Homo sapiens: one gene and its partner. The protein of the gene in region 1 purifies or fractionates together with the protein of each later gene. This does not show direct contact. Each region holds a gene or a part of one and is shown in the gene's direction. Other genes may lie near its edges.

Evidence for each region. The genes of interacting proteins can lie anywhere in the genome.
Region 2: the proteins of SH2D3C (region 1) and UBE4A purify together in Homo sapiens (affinity purification with mass spectrometry; one large-scale study listed by BioGRID and IntAct). This does not show direct contact.

What each region holds. Positions count from the first base shown.
Region 1 is NC_000009.12:127,751,167-127,754,666, reverse strand, and holds part of SH2D3C (SH2 domain-containing protein 3C), read left to right. Parts: intron 1-3,366; coding exon 3,367-3,495; intron 3,496-3,500. UniProt on the Homo sapiens protein: Acts as an adapter protein that mediates cell signaling pathways involved in cellular functions such as cell adhesion and migration, tissue organization, and the regulation of the immune response.
Region 2 is NC_000011.10:118,390,600-118,394,099, forward strand, and holds part of UBE4A (ubiquitin conjugation factor E4 A), read left to right. Parts: intron 1-57; coding exon 58-205; intron 206-2,138; coding exon 2,139-2,296; intron 2,297-3,500.

The sequences.
Region 1 (3,500 bases):
GAGTGAGGAGCAGGAAACGCGGGGGATGCTTCGGATGCCAGGGTTGGGGCCAGAGCGCCCGCCACCCTCCCGCCCTCTAGGTGGGCTTGGACATGCCTGGGGCGCGGGTCTCTCCCAGCCCAGCTGGCCGGGCAGTGCAGGACGGCGCCGCGGCGGTGAGAGGGTTAAACGGAAGGGGGTGGAGGGGAGGACCCGGACCCCGCCTCTCTGCGGAGCATCCTTTGGGGATGGCTTTGCTTGGGGTTGGGACGCCGAGGGGAGCTGGAGGGGATGCTGGGCTCGGGCTGGCGGGAAGGGGTTAAGACCCTGTCCGGGGGTCTCCGCGCTCCTGCCCCCTGAGCCCCCTGGGAGATGCCAGGCGCGTCGGCTCTTCGCTCCCCCAGGCTCACACACGCTCGCGGAGCCCGCCTGAAGGACTGCCCCGCCGGCGGCGGAGCGCAGCATCCCCGCACCGGCCAATCAGGCGCGCGCAGGCCGGGAGGCGGTGAGATCATCTCTGGCCAATAGCAGGGCGCCGAGCGCAGGGATGCTGCATTCGCACCCCAGCACCCCCAACTCTAGGGAACTGGGGGCTCCCAGGTCGAGGTGAGATCAAGGCACAGGGACCCTAGGATTCCTCACCCTCAGGTGTGTGGGAGGACCAAGTTGGTCCCCCCAAACTCTCCGTGACCAGTGATTAAGCTGGAAAAGGGGAGCCCAGTCTCCCAGCCCCTTTAACGGATGAGGCTGCCCAGGCCCAGAGAGGGGAAGTGACTGGCTCAAGGTCACACAGTGGCAGCCTTGGGGCGGTTCTTCAACATCCAGCCTCCTCCCTCCTTTGCCCACGTCCCTCTAGCTCCAGCTGTGGAACTGGGGGAAGGTCTCAATCGCATGCCCTTTGTCAAGGAGGACGCCAGAAGGCTGAGGTCTTGGTTCCCTTTTTCCCTGTGACGCCCACTCTCCCCTTTCCAGGGTTTGGTGTGATATGAGGAAAGAGGACTAGCCTGGTGTGAGCACCGCAGAGTGAGAGGGAGAGAGACCAGGGACCCCCAGAAGTAGGGGACCCCTTGGAGAAGTGTAGGTGTCTGAGAAGGCCCAGATCCTAGCCCAGCCCTGGGCCTCTCTGCCCTTCGGGGGCATCGGTTTCTACCACGGCCGGAGGATGTGCAGAATTCCCACTCCCAGGCCCCGCCTTTCTCCTGAGCACCTGTGCAAACCGCCCACTCCCACCATCTGTCCCCAGAGCCCTGCAGGCTCCTCAAGGTCCAAATTTTCATGGGTCCACCACCAAGCTGCTCCTGCCCCAGCCTTGCCCACTCAGAGCATGTCCCAATCATCCTTCTAGGATCTCGGCCAGGAGTCCTCTCTGACCCCTCCGCCCTGCTCCCCCACATGAATCAATGGCCATCTAAACTCCCTTTCCCCCACTCCTTCTGCCCACGCCTTATCTGCCCTGCCACTGCCTGGAAAACCCTAGGCTGCTCTCCATAAGTGGACTAAACCTGCCCCAACACTTCCAAACCCCTCCATGGCTCTGCTGTGGCCTCCAGATAAACCCCAGCTCCCTGAGGCAGCCGTGCCACACCTGCCCCTGCCCCCACAGCCCCTTGGAAGCTTCTTATTCATCTCCCCTCCCTCCCCTTGGCTCTGCCCGTAGGACCCTGACTTTGCCGCTCTCTCCCCAGAAGCTCTTCCCTGTCCACCTGTCCACCTGCCCTCTCCACCCTGGTGCTTTTGCTTGGCTCACCCAGTCCTTCAGACCTCAGCAGAAACACCACCTTTTCAGGGAAGTGATTCCTGACTCTGCCCCCTGACTAGTTTGGTGGTGCACCATCTCTGTGCATCTCGGGACATTCAGGAAACCTGGAATTGATTGTCAGTGTCTGCAAGGCCTCCCCCAGGGCAGAGGCCACCTTGGGTCCTCAGCCCTGGCACAGGACCAGGATAGGGACCTAGTCAATGTTGAATGGAATCAGAGATTCTAGATATCTCTGACACTGGGAATCATGGTGTCTTGGGAGCAATGCAGACTAGGCTAAACCCAGGCAGTATGGGAGCAGAGGGGTGAGGGATGTAGCCACAGAATTAGGAGGCGAGATCTGTGGATAGTCTGAGGAGGCAGGGAGTGGACTGGAGGACCTTCGGACTCTCAGGAGCGAGGGGCCCCAGGGAGAGACTCACCTGGGATGAAGGCCCTTTACTGCCCTCCCTCATCTGTCCTGCCTTCTGGCCAGCGCTGGGGTCTGTCTGTCTTGGAGTAGCCATCTTTGGGGCCTGGAGGTGGGGGAAGGAGAGGAAGAACCATCCCATGTCCTCGCAGTGATGAGGATGTCCATGTGCTAGTAGTACTCTGGAGTGCTGTCTCTTTTCATCTTCGCAGTGAGGTGAGGCAGGTTCTGTCACTGTACCCATTTTAATGAGGAAGAAATTGAGGCCCAGAGAGCTCACAAGGCACAGCCAGGATTGGGCTGGGCTCTGGTGGGCGTACACCTGGCATTAAGGGCTTCCTTTCCTCTTCCCTTAGGGCCCCTGGGATCCATCAGCCTCCAACTTCAGGCCACAGTAATCAAGAAACCAGGAGTTTCTGGGCCAGGTGGGAGGGTGGAGTACTGGACATTATCTCCCTCAGTGGCCTTGGGCTTCCCTGCTGGGCCATGGTCTCCCCATCTGGGTGAGGATTGCTGAGGATTTCAAGGGAGAAATGGCCTTGGAAATTGTAAGGGGCAATGCAGATGTCTGTTTGGGGTCCCCGTGTCCCTGTTTATAGTCCCTTCCCCACCCTTGCATTGTAGAATGCACCATCCCAGAACGTATCCTTGTCCAACCAGTTCTGTGGTTTTGTTCATAGCTTTTCCTGCAGTTACCTGCTGCCTTACCTCCAAGATTCACCTGTAGAAATCCCCCTCCAACACTTCAAGAACAGTTTGGTGCCCTTGGTATATAATGAGTGTTTTCTTACTGCCATCTCCTCCAGGAAGGCTTCCGAGACCCCTCTGTCGTGCCCAGGCTTAATCCCGCTTGTAAAAGCCACCCGGCTCTTTGCCGCTGTCCAGCGCTGTGGTGCTGACCGCACTCTACTCAGAGGCTCCTGTTGCTTTTGCCTCTCCTCAGACTAGGCACTGCCTTGAGGGCCGGGCTTGGTTTATATATCACTGCATCCACCCCTGGCATATAGCACAGGGCCTGGAATGCAGCTGGCATTGTTTTGTGGAAGGAATTGAGATTTCTTTACTCTTTCTGGGACCCATGGGAAAGGGTCTGGCACCTGTGCCTTAGTGTTCCCAGAGTCCCAGGATAGGAGGAGTTCATCCATGGTAGAATGAAGTTGGGAGGGAAAGAAGAAGGAGACTTTAAGTTGGATGCCAACTCTTGCTGTTTTCTACCCAGTTCTCCAAGGAGAAGTACATCCTGGACTCATCGCCAGAGAAACTCCACAAGGAATTGGAGGAGGAGCTCAAACTCAGCAGCACGGATCTCCGCAGCCATGCCTGGTACCATGGCCGCATCCCCCGAGAGGTGAG
Region 2 (3,500 bases), on another chromosome or scaffold:
TCTCTTCCATTGACCAACCCTCTGGTGATCAGTTTTTTTCTGATGCTAATGTTCCAGGGATGAGGAGAATTTCTGTGCCACTGTGCCCAAGGATGGACGTTCCTATTCCCCAACTCTCTTTGCACAGACAGTTCGAGTCTTGAAGAAAATAAATAAGCCTGGGAATATGATTATGGCTTTCAGCAACTTGGCAGAGAGAATCAAGGTGAGGAAGAGGAGGAATTGTTTGCTGATTTCATTAAGAACCACGTTGTCAGCCAGGCATGATGGCTCAAGCCTGTAGTCCCAGCTACTTAAGAGCCTAAGGCTAGAGGATCACTTAAGCCCAGGAGTTTGAAGCTGCAGTGTGCTATGATCATGCCTGTGGATAGCCACTACACTCCAGCCTTGGCAAGATAGCAAGACCCCATCTCCTAAAAATCCATGCAAAAAAAATCAGATTGTCACCTCAGCTGTGCTGATTTTTACTCTATTTCAGGGAGAAAAAGAGCATTACCAAGAGAAAATATAAACAGATGGTTCTTTTTGGACAGTCACTTAGAACTACAATATTCTTAGTTTTATTCTTGTCAACATGAGAGTGAGAATAGAAATTTAAGAAATCGGCTGGGTACAGTAGTGGCTCATGCTTGTAATCCCAGCATTTTGGGAAGCCAGGGTGGGCAGATCACTTGAGGTCAGGAGTTCAACACCAGCCTGGCCAGCATGGTGAAACCCTGTCTCTACTAAAAATACAAAAATTAGCTGGGTGTGGTGGCAGGCGCCTGTAATCCCAGCTACTCGGGAGGCTGAGGCAGGAGAATCGCTTGAACCTGGGAGGCGGAGGTTGCAGTGATCGCAACCACTGCACTCCAGCCTGGGCAACAGAGCGAGATTCCATCTCAAAAAAAAAAAAAGAAAAAAGAAATTTAAGGGCCAGGCGCGGTGGCTCACGCCTGTAATCCTAGCACTTTGGGAGGTCGAGGCGGGCAGATCACAAGGTCAGGAGATAGCGACCATCCTGGCTAACACGGTGAAACCCCATCTCTACTAAAAATACAAAAAATTAGCCGGGCGTGGTGGCAGGCACCTGTAGTCCCAGCTACTCAGGAGACTGAGGCAGGAGAATGGCGTGAACCCAGGAAGCAGAGCTTGCAGTGAGCCAAGATAGTGCCACTGCACTCCCGCCTGGGCAAAAGAGCGAGACTCCATCTCAAAAAAGAAAAAAAAAAAAATTTAAGAAACCTCAACTAGAAGAGAAGAATGTGCACATTTATGTAAGATGTTTTTATGAAAACGTTTATGCACAGTGTTACCAATAGATTTTAAAAGCTAGGGTGTTAATGCAGAATAACTTTTTAGAAAAAAAAAAAGATGAGTAGTTTTCAGTCATTAATTTTTATTTGGATTGTCTCTATGTTTGTAGTTGGTAGTTGGCTTTTATTGGAATATGCATACATTTTAAAGATTAAAATACTATATTGTATTTAGCTAAATCCCTTTGGTTAGAGTATGACAGAGCTCTATTAGCAGGTAAGAAGAAGGAAGATCATGGCACAAAAGTCTAATAGAAAACCTTCCTTATTGCTGTCAGTCTTCCCTCTATTGAGTTTCTTTTTTATTGAGTTGGACTTCATCTTTGTTTAGAGCTTAGCCAGGTGGATCCCTGAGGAACTCAAGTTGTGAAGGAATTAAATGTCAAAATGACTTTAAAATTCCTATACCTGTTTGTATCAAAAATCAAAAACTGCTTTTCATACGCAGGCTGCATGAGTGACTCTAATTATGCAAATAATACCCTCCTCCATTCTCCCTTCTCCATCCACTTTTGAATTATGGCATTTACAACAGAACTGTTGCCAGATGGATGTTATATCTGATGTATTTCTTTTCCTCCTAACATTTAAACCCATTTCCAGTATGACTGCCAGCAGCTGAGCCAACCTAAAGGTCCAGAGTTGGGGCTCAATGCTTAATTTGTTCTTAGAATATCTTGGCTTGTTTTTGAGAAAATGAAGCTCACGTGTGTCACTGTCACTGTCAAGGGTTATTAATGACCTGTTTTTTTATTTTTGAGATGGAGTCTTGCTCTGTCATTGAGCACGCTGAATTCAGCTACACTGTGAATTCACTTTAACTACCAGATGTTGTATACTCAGTCTCTTGCAGACCTCCAACAACAGGAAGAGGAAACCTATGCAGATGCCTGTGATGAGTTCCTGGATCCCATTATGAGCACACTGATGTGTGACCCTGTGGTGCTGCCATCTTCCAGAGTCACTGTGGATAGATCCACCATTGCAAGACATTTGCTCAGGTAGGCCAGTCCCAAAAACAGACTCAAGAGCATATATATATATTAGTTTGCTATCTTTTTCTCCCAGGCACCTAAGACAGTACTTTGCACCCAACACATACCACATATTATTGATTTACTGATATGTTGGAAGACATTTTGGTTTCAATTGCTAGGATATAAACATTTCAAAACAAAACATTCTGTTGAGAAATGCTAACTCTAACCTCACCTCTTCCTGCCTTAAGAAAATAATTTCTGGCCGGGTGCAGTGGCTCATGCCTGTAATCCCAGCACTTTGGGAGGCCGAGGCAGGTGGATCACTTGAGGTCAGGAGTTTGAGACCAGCCTGGCCAACATGGTAAAACCCCGTCTCTACTAAAATACAAAAAATTAGAGGGGCATGGTGGTGCGCACATGTAGTCTGAGCTACTCAGGAGGCTGAGGCAGAAGAATTGCTTGAACCCAGGAGGCAGAGGTTGCAATGAGCCGAGATCGCACCACTGCACTCCAGCCTGGGCTCAGGTGATCCTCCTACCTCAGCCTCTGGAGTAACTGGGACTACAGGCATGCACTAACACGCCCAACTAATTTTTGTATTTTTTGTAGAGACAGGGTTTCACCATGTTGCCCAGGCTGGTCTTGAACTCCTGGGTTCAAGCGATCCAACCGCCTCAGCCTCCCAAAGTACTGGGATTACGGGTGTGAGCCACTGTGCCTGGCCTGTTTTTTTATTTTTGCGACAGAGTCTCGCTCTGTCACCAAGGCTAGAGTGCAGTGGCGCGATCTCAGCTCACTGCAAGCTCCGCCTCCCAGGATCAAGTGATTCTTCAGCCTCAGCCTCCCGAATAGCTGAGACTACAGGTGAGCACCACCACATCTGGCTAATTTTTGTATTTGTAATAGAGATGAGGTTTCACCATATTGGCCAGGCTGGTCTTAAACTCCTGATTTCAAGTGATCCTCCCACCTCAGCCTCCCAAAGTGCTGGGATTATAGGCATGAGCCACCTCACCCAGCCTGCTTTTTCTAATTCAGGTTTTACACTATATTCACCATGTGGATTAACTCACGTTCTGTTGCTGTTGTTGTATCAGCTGTGGTAACCATGAACTTTCCCCAGCCTGCCTATTCTTCGGACAGTCTGCCCCATTATAACTATAGAAAAGACAGGAATGAAGCAATAAATGGTAGCTTATTAGCTGCTTAATGGGCCCCTTAACTT